Regions from separate parts of the Homo sapiens genome. Here region 2 is linked to region 1. The links come from fine-mapping of genetic effects on gene expression. Tissue or cell type: whole blood. Region 1 holds a variant in brackets; the other region holds the start of a gene. All regions are shown on one strand. Distances are between the middles of the regions.

Region 1 (4,114 bases):
TTAAAAAAGAAAATAACAACCTGCTGTTTATGTGTTGGAATTGTGTTATGTATCAGGGCATAAGAGTGAACAAGATAGTCCAGTCTCTGCTCAAAGGGAGCTTACAGTCTGGTGCTGCACTGTCCTGTCCAATCTGGTAGCCATTAGCTACTAGCTACTGCTGTGGTTATTAATTTATTTTTTAAAGTTTTTAATTTTGGCTGAGTCTGGTGGCTCATGCCTGTAATCCCAGCGCTTTGGGAGGCCGAGGCAGGTGGATCACCTGAGGTTAGGAGTTCGAGACCAGTCTGGCCAACATGGCGAAACCCCGTCTCTACTCCAAATCCAAAAAAAAAAAAAAAAAAAAAAAATTAGCCAGGTGTGGTGGTGGGCGCCTGTAATCCCAACTACTCGGAAGACTGAGGCAGGAGAATCACTTGAACCTGGGAGGCGGAGGTTGCAGTGAGCCGAGATTGAGCCAGTGCACTCCAGCCTGGGCAACAAGAGTGAAACTCTGTCTCAAAAAAAAAAAAGTTTTTAATTTTTGTGGGTACCCAGTATGTGTATCTATTTTAGGGTACACGAGATATTTTGATACAGGCATACAATGCATAATAATCTCATCAGGGCATCCATCACTTCAAGCATTTATCCTTTATGTTACAAACAATCCAATTATACTCTTTTAGTTATTTTTAAATGTACAATAATTTATTTTTTTTGAGACGGAGTCTTGCTCCATTGCCCAGGCTGGAGTGCAATGGCATGATCTTGGCTCACTGCAACCTCTGCCTCTCGGGTTCAAGCAATTCCCCTGCCTCAGCCTCCCGAGTAGCTGGGATTACAGGCATGCACCACCATGCCTGGCTAATTTTTGTATTTTTAGTAGAGACGGGGTTTTACCATGTTGGTCAGGCACGTCTTGAACTCCTGTCCTTGTGATCTGCCCGCCTCAGCCTTCCAAAGTGCTGGGATTACAGGCATGAGCCACTGCACCCAGCCTTAGGCTGGTGCTTTTTAAACTTTTTTTGCTTCTGGGGAGTGGGTGATAGGGAAAGTTCTGCCAGCCTGGGAGGGGCCCACTAGAGCCTGCTGCTCCAGTGTGGATTGTGGGGAGAGGAAAAGGAACTGTGTGCTTTGGGCCCAGATCACTGGAGTGCCCTGAGTCTCTGAGAAGTTTACCCTACATCCCTCCTGTGGCAGCACCATCCACTTCACCAGGATCTGACCAGGGCCTTCAGGGGGACACAGCCTCCCCGGATCTGAGCATCACTATCATTCTAATTCCTTGGGCTGTTTCTGTGTAGATAATTATTTTCCAGCTCATTCAGGCAGGTGAGGTTGAGGCCAGCAGTGCAGCTAAATCCTTACACCGTGACTGGGGCTGCTTTTATACAGGTTAGGGGAAGAATAATCACTTATGGCTGAAATCTAATGGAAGAGGGAGTTCTGTGTAACTCTAGTGGGCAGAGCTGAGTTTAGAAGGTTAGTAGGAGGCAGATTTCAGCCCAGTAGAAGGAACAATAATGTTCCAGTAATTATACAATTATTATCCAACAGGGGCTATACTGTCATAAATTCTTCAAACGGAGGCCAGATGTTAGGAAGGCCACAAAGAGGATTCCTACTGGGAGAGGCCAAACTTGAACCATCTGTTTATTTATTTTATTTTATTTATTTATTTTTTTGAGAATGGAGTTTCACTCTTGTCACCCAGGCTGGAGTGCAATGGCACAAACTTGGCTCACTGCAACCTCCGCCTCCCGGGTTCAGGTGATTCTTTTGCCTCAGCCTCCCAAGTAGCTAGGATTACAGGCATGCACCACCACGCCTGGCTAATTTTGTATTTTTAGTAGAGACGGGGTTTCTCTATGTTGGTCAGGCTGGTCTCGAACTCTTGACCTCAGGTGATCCACCCACCTCGGCCTCCCAAAGTGCTGGGATCAGAGGTGTGAGCCACCACACCGAGCTGGTAAGTATATTTTTATTTTTATTACTATTTTTTTTGAGACAGAGTCTTGCTCTGTTGCCCAAGGCTGGAGTGCAATGGCAAGATTTCAGCTCACTGCAAACTCCGCCTCCCAGGTTCAAGCAATTCTTCTGCCTCAACCTCCCAAGTAGCTGGGAATACAGGCGCATGCCACCACGCCTGGCTATTTTTTTTTTTTTTTTGTATTTTTAGTAGAGACAGGGTTTCACCATATTGGCCAGGCTGGTCTTGAACTCGTGACCTCGTGATCCGCCCGCCTCAGCCTCCCAAAGTGTTGGGATTACAGGC[G/A]TGAGCCACCGCGCTGGGAGGTGTATTTTTAAACTTAGAAAAAACGGCCCAACTGTTTTCCAAAGTAGTTGTACACGTTTTGTATTCCCACCAGCAACATATGAGGGTTTCATTGCTCTGCATTCTACTTATTTATTTATTTATCTTTGTGACAAGATCTCACTCTGTCACCCAGGCTGGAGTGCAGTGGTGCAAACATGGGTCACTGCAGCCTCAACCTCTGGGGCTCAGGCAATCCTCCCGTCTGGGCCCCTTGTGTAGCTGGGACCAAAGGCACACGCGACCACGCCAGGTGAATTTTAAAATTTTTTGTAGAGATGGAGTCTTACTTTGTTGCCCAGCCTGTTTTTCAACCCCTGGTCTCAAGCAGTCCTCCTGCCTCAGCCTCCCGAGTTGCTGGGATAACAGGTGCGCACCACCAAGGCAGGCTAATTTTTTTAAATTTTTAAATTTAATTTAATTAATTTGGTTATTTATTTTGAGACGGAATCTCGCTCTGTCGCCCAGGCTGGAGTGCAGTGGCGAGATCTCGGCTCACTGCAAGCTCCGCCTCCCGGGTTCACGCCATTCTCCTGCCTCAGCCTCCTGAGTAGCTGGGACTACAGGCGCCTACCACCACGCCCGGCTAATTTTTTATATTTTTAGTAGAGACGGGGCTTCACCGTGTTAGCCAGGATGGTCTCGATATCCTGACCTCGTGATCCGCCCACCTCGGCCTCCCAAAGTGCTGGGATTACAGGCGTGAGCCACTGCGCCCGGCCAAGGCAGGCTAATTTTTTATTATTCATATATTTATTTTGGGAGGAAGGTTGTTTTTTAATACTCAAATATTACCCCAAACGTGCACACATACACCCCTTGGTTTTTCCCCTTGAGGTTTATGATATTTAGAAAAGAACTCCCCCACCCTCTTAGGAGACGAGGGAGGTTGCAGGTGCCCCAGAACTCTCGGTGGGCTCTCCCAGGAGTCCCAGGACAAGCCGAAAACCAGGAGACTCTTGCAGTCAGGGGGCAACTGGGGAAGCGGCGGCGTGGGGCACAGGAGCGGTGCCCTGGGACCGGCGGGACGGCCCTGAGACCCCGGGGCTGGGAAGCAGCCGCAGCTGCCGAGCCGGGGACACCCAGGCACCACCCAATGGGAGCGCGCGGGAGCGAGGCAGGGGCAGCAGCGGAGAGAAAGGAGGGTATGGGCAGGATAGCGGCTTCCCAGAGCCGGGGAGCAGCTCCCTAACCTCACTGCGAGATCTTTAAGGAGGAGGGTTCCGCTTGCCCGCCCTCGGATCCTCCCTCGAGTAGAGTCCACCTCCTCCCCTCTCCTCCTCGGTCCCGGGCTTTGGCGCCTTCCCCCAGTCCCTCTCTGTCCCCCATCCTGTTCCGTCTTGGCAGTGGCTTTAAGGGGAATCCCACCCCGACGTAAAGGGGCTTTGTCCCCCAGCTCTCCTCGCCCCTTAGCCCCGCCTAGCCAGGAGTCAGGCCTCAGAGGGTCTGGTGGCTGGGAGGAGGGCGCTCCAGGGGCCAGGGGCTCGCGGAGGCCACTCGTGAGGGAGGACCAGCCTATGGACCTACGTGTGGCCGAGATCAGCGCGACTGAGATGCGGACAGAGAGTGAGACTCTCCAGGCTCAAATCCCTGGCAAGCCACTGGCGAACTGGCGTTCCTGGGCAAGTCCCTTAACCTCTCAGCTCCTTCATTTCCTCGCTCCTAAAATAGGGCTAAAGAGAGTGCATTCTTGGGATTGTTGGGAGGATTAAATGAATTAATATATGTCAAGCTTTTAGGACCCTATCTGGCCCAGGGTAAGTGCTACATAAGGTTTGATATTATTGTAAGCTGAGCACAGAATTCCAGTGTCCTCTT
Region 2 (4,114 bases), 62 kb after region 1:
GGGAAGATAGGGAGAGCGCCTGTCCTCCCTTTCCAGGGCTGCCATACCCGTCTGACCAGCCCCTCCCTCCCTCCTTCCGCCTTCCCTGTCCCAGGTTTGGCACTGGGCCCAGTCCTTCTCCCTTTGGTCTTCTGTTAAAAGCTTCTCAGCCCTGGTGGGTGCGGGTGTTTGTTGGGGAGGGGGTAGCATGCCTTCCAATCACTCTTGGGAAAATTAGGCATTGTTTAAAGGAGCTGGGAGAAGGCCTGGTGTAAATAGGTGCTAACTGAATTTCCCTTGCTCCATTCAGCATAGCAGGAGGCAGGGCCTGGGGAGGGGAGGGGAGGTGAAGGAGCCACTCACTGTGCCCGCTCTTGGGATCTATGCATTTTTCTGGAAGGGACTTCAATGTGTGGGGTGTGTGTGTGTGTGTGTGTGTATGCACGCGTGCATTGTGAAGAGAGCTTGTCTGTGTGTCTGTCTTTTTAAGTTTGTCTGTCCTCCAAGGAGGGGGCTTCTGGGTCTCTCTGTCCTTCTGGGTAGGGGTCCTATGTGCCTGTCTTTCTGTGAGCCTGGGTGTCTCTCCTAGAGAAGGATGGGGAAGAAACTGTACATCTGTCCTCCCAGTAGGTGGTCACCCCCTTCCCTGGGTCAGGGCTATGTCACCTGTCCCTCTCCTCAAGGGGATCTGGCTGTCATCTGTTGGTCCTCTGAGTTCAGTTTCATCCAGTCCCCACATCACACCCTGCAGTATCTTCCAGAGAACCCAGCCCCAGCCATCAGGTAATTGCAGGTGGAATCTCTGCCTTGGGGACCTAAACCTCCTGCCTTCCACCCACAGCATGCCCTGCCTGGCCCCACCCAGGCCTGGGGTGCCTTGCTCAGCTCCCCAATCTCCAACCTCCCACAGGTGCGTGCTACGTCCCAACCTGCCCTCCTGACTCACTTTGATAATGGGAGACAGGTGCAGGGACTCTTCCTCTATTTCCTCTGGCCCGTTGGGAGCCTGGGTAAAGCAGGAGGGTCCAGGTAGCACCACGAGTGCCACACCACTCCACTGTACCCCCTGCCGTCCTGTCTCACTTCCCATGATTCACTCACTGGGAGCAATGGGAGTGACTCCCGCAAAGAGCAAGAACTATGAAGTCCCTGACATAGCTCCCATCTCCTCTTGCCCCCCCCAACCCCTGCGTTCTCTGCCTTCTAGCCCTGTTCATCATTCTCTAGGCCCTTCAGTGAGGCCTACAGTGTTCACCTGGCCCAGGGGATCCTAGGATCTTGGAAGGAGAGGAAGCCCCTGGGTTATGTTCAGGAAAAGTGCTGTGTTGGATCTCGCTCTTTTTTTTCTTTGAGATGGAATCTCGCTCTGTCGCCCAGGCTGGAGTGCAGTGGCACGATCTCAGCTCACTGCAACCTCTGCCTCCCGGGTTCAAGTGATTCTCCTGCCTCAGCCTCCTGAGTAGCTGGGATTACACCATGGCCAGCTAATTTTTGTATTTTTAGTAGAGATGGGGTTTCACCATGTTGGTCAGGCTTGTCTTGAACTCCTGACCTCGTGATCCGCCTACCTCAGCCTCCCAAAGTGCTGGGATTACAGGCGTGAGCCACCGTGCCTGGCCTTGGATCTCTTTTTATCTTGCACCTTCAGATGTAGAGGGACGACAGCCACTGTGTGTGTATGTGTATGTGTGTGTGTGTGTGTGTGTGTGCGCGTGTGATGTTTATTCACTCATTTATTTATTCATTCATTCATTCCACAAATATCTACCCAGACCCTCTTGGCACTGCACCAGGTGCTAGGGGTAGAACAGTAACCTGGAAAGATGAGGCAAATGGTTGATTTCAGATTCAAGGCTTTGGACTCCAGCTGTTCTGTCATCCAGCTCAGGCAGGCCCTCATAATCGCTTCAATCAGGGAGAACACAGGAGAGTTTCTCTGGGGTGTCGGCAGCTCAGAGGAGACCCAAATACTAGGAGACCCCTTTTTCCCATGCTTCCCAGTCCTCCAGTTTATTTCCCCCAGGAGGGAGGGAGACAAGACCCAGGAGTCAGGGTTGTAGTGGCTGGGCGGCCCAGGCAAGTCTGCTTGTTACAGGCACTTGTGCCAGGACAGGATTTCTTCCAGTTTCATATTCACTGAACTGCCTTTTCCTGGGTTTCTGGGGGTGGTGCTGGAGTGGGCTCCAGGGTTGGAACGGGCCCTTGGGTGGCGGCAGCTCTCTGCTGCCCCCACCTGAGTCCTGCCCGGAGGTGGCAGGTGACGGGTTAGGCCCAGCCCCCTCTGGGCCTAGCCACTCAGGTACGAGGCCTTTCCCCCCCATCCCCCGGGGCTGGGATCTCTTTTATAAAAGGCCATTCCTGAGAGCTCTCCTCACCAAGAAGCAGCTTCTCCGCTCCTTCTAGGATCTCCGCCTGGTTCGGCCCGCCTGCCTCCACTCCTGCCTCTACCATGTCCATCAGGGTGACCCAGAAGTCCTACAAGGTGTCCACCTCTGGCCCCCGGGCCTTCAGCAGCCGCTCCTACACGAGTGGGCCCGGTTCCCGCATCAGCTCCTCGAGCTTCTCCCGAGTGGGCAGCAGCAACTTTCGCGGTGGCCTGGGCGGCGGCTATGGTGGGGCCAGCGGCATGGGAGGCATCACCGCAGTTACGGTCAACCAGAGCCTGCTGAGCCCCCTTGTCCTGGAGGTGGACCCCAACATCCAGGCCGTGCGCACCCAGGAGAAGGAGCAGATCAAGACCCTCAACAACAAGTTTGCCTCCTTCATAGACAAGGTGAGGGTCCCCCCTGCGTGGCTGACTGTGCCCGCAGCCCCTTTCTCCTGGTAGTCCCGGTCCCTATGCACATCTCCAGCCCCCAGCTGGCGTCCTGCTGGGCCTCACCCGCCCTGGCGACACTCTCCCTTCCATCCTCCGACTCACCCCTCCCGTGCACCTTGGTTTGGGCTGGGTGAGGGTGGGGAGAGGGTCTGGACAGCCGGGATGAATCCTGGGGCTTCCTTCTTCCCTTTTAAACTGGAGGGTCTTGGAAGAGAGAGACAACTTAAGGGTACAGCCTAGTTCCCACCACCCCTCTCTACAAATCCCGTTCTTCCTCAGGTCATTCTGTCCCCAAATTATAAAAAATAATAGCGGTTATTGTTCTCACCCCAACCCGAGTTCTGACCGTCTTTTAAGCTATCGCCCTGCGGCAGTCCCAGCTGTTCGGGGACTACCCTCCTCCAGGTTCGCCTCTTCGCCAGCACTACCCCAAGGGCTCCCCAGTGGTGCCTTTGTGATTTTTTTTCTTTCTTTTCTTTTTTTTACATAGGGGTTTGGTGTGATTCTAGCATTCTAGGAGAAGGAAGTGGGTGTCTCGGTTCAAACGGGCAAATATTGATTGAGGCCTTTGGCGCCCGGAGGCCTGAGTGCGGGGGTCACAGAATGAGTCATACCCCGGCCCCTGCGCCGGCAGCGTGGGCGGGGCCGAGGGCGGGGTGAGGGGCTGCGGGCAGCAGTCTCGGGACGCTCTCCTCCACCTGGCGGAGCTCGGCGTCGGGGGCGGTGTGGGTGGGGTGGGGTGGGGTGGGGTGGGCTGGGGTGGGGTGGAGGAGGCGCCAGGGCCTGGCCTCGGAAAGCCCATGCAGGATTCAAAGTCTGCGGGCGTGGGACGCCCCGCCCGGGGTTTACGTCCTGTTAAGTTTATGGCTTCAGATAACGCGGTCGCCCACCAACGCCCCTCGCCCATTCAGCCCGTGTCCCTTTCTCGCGTCCTGTCCCTGCTCCGCCCCAGCGGCCTGGCTCCACTTTCACACAGCAGGAGCCAGGCCGGGTTTTGCAGCCCTGGGACTCCGCTGCCTGAGGGGCCCCGGGCCCCCGGCGGCCCCGAGGATTGGGCCCTTCACGCTGACTGGCTCCTGGGAGGCATTGTGGGAACGGGAGGAGGGAAATCCTGGGGCAGAGTAAGCCGGGAGGAACCGGAGCCCCAGGAACCCAGTGGTCGGGGGCCCTTGGCGCTCCAAGCGCCTGGACTTGACTTGTTGACTGCGTTTTGCTAGCCCTGGGGTCCTTATAGAGAGCAGCTAAGCATAGGCTTTGGAATCTGAATTCTTGGTTCGCACTGCTCTGCCGGTTCCTGGTTATGGACTCCCTTGCCAA

What was found. PIP is the estimated chance that this variant, and not a neighbour inherited with it, causes the effect. A credible set is the group of variants that fine-mapping cannot tell apart.
Region 2: KRT8 starts here. The variant in region 1 is the best candidate, but not a certain one, in a credible set for the expression of KRT8 in whole blood (TOPMed, PIP 0.88).

What each region holds. Positions count from the first base shown.
Region 1 is chr12:52,964,891-52,969,004 of GRCh38, reverse strand. No RefSeq gene overlaps it. Among named protein-coding and RNA genes, the nearest start is that of KRT18, 18 kb to the right of the region's middle. RefSeq lists an enhancer at 3,463-4,106. The variant G/A (reference allele first, on the strand shown) is at 2,258.
Region 2 is chr12:52,903,296-52,907,409 of GRCh38, reverse strand. KRT8 (keratin 8) reads left to right here and starts at 2,334. Exons shown (of 8, transcript NM_002273.4): 1 at 2,334-2,752. The coding sequence starts at 2,429. RefSeq lists a silencer at 3,394-3,563.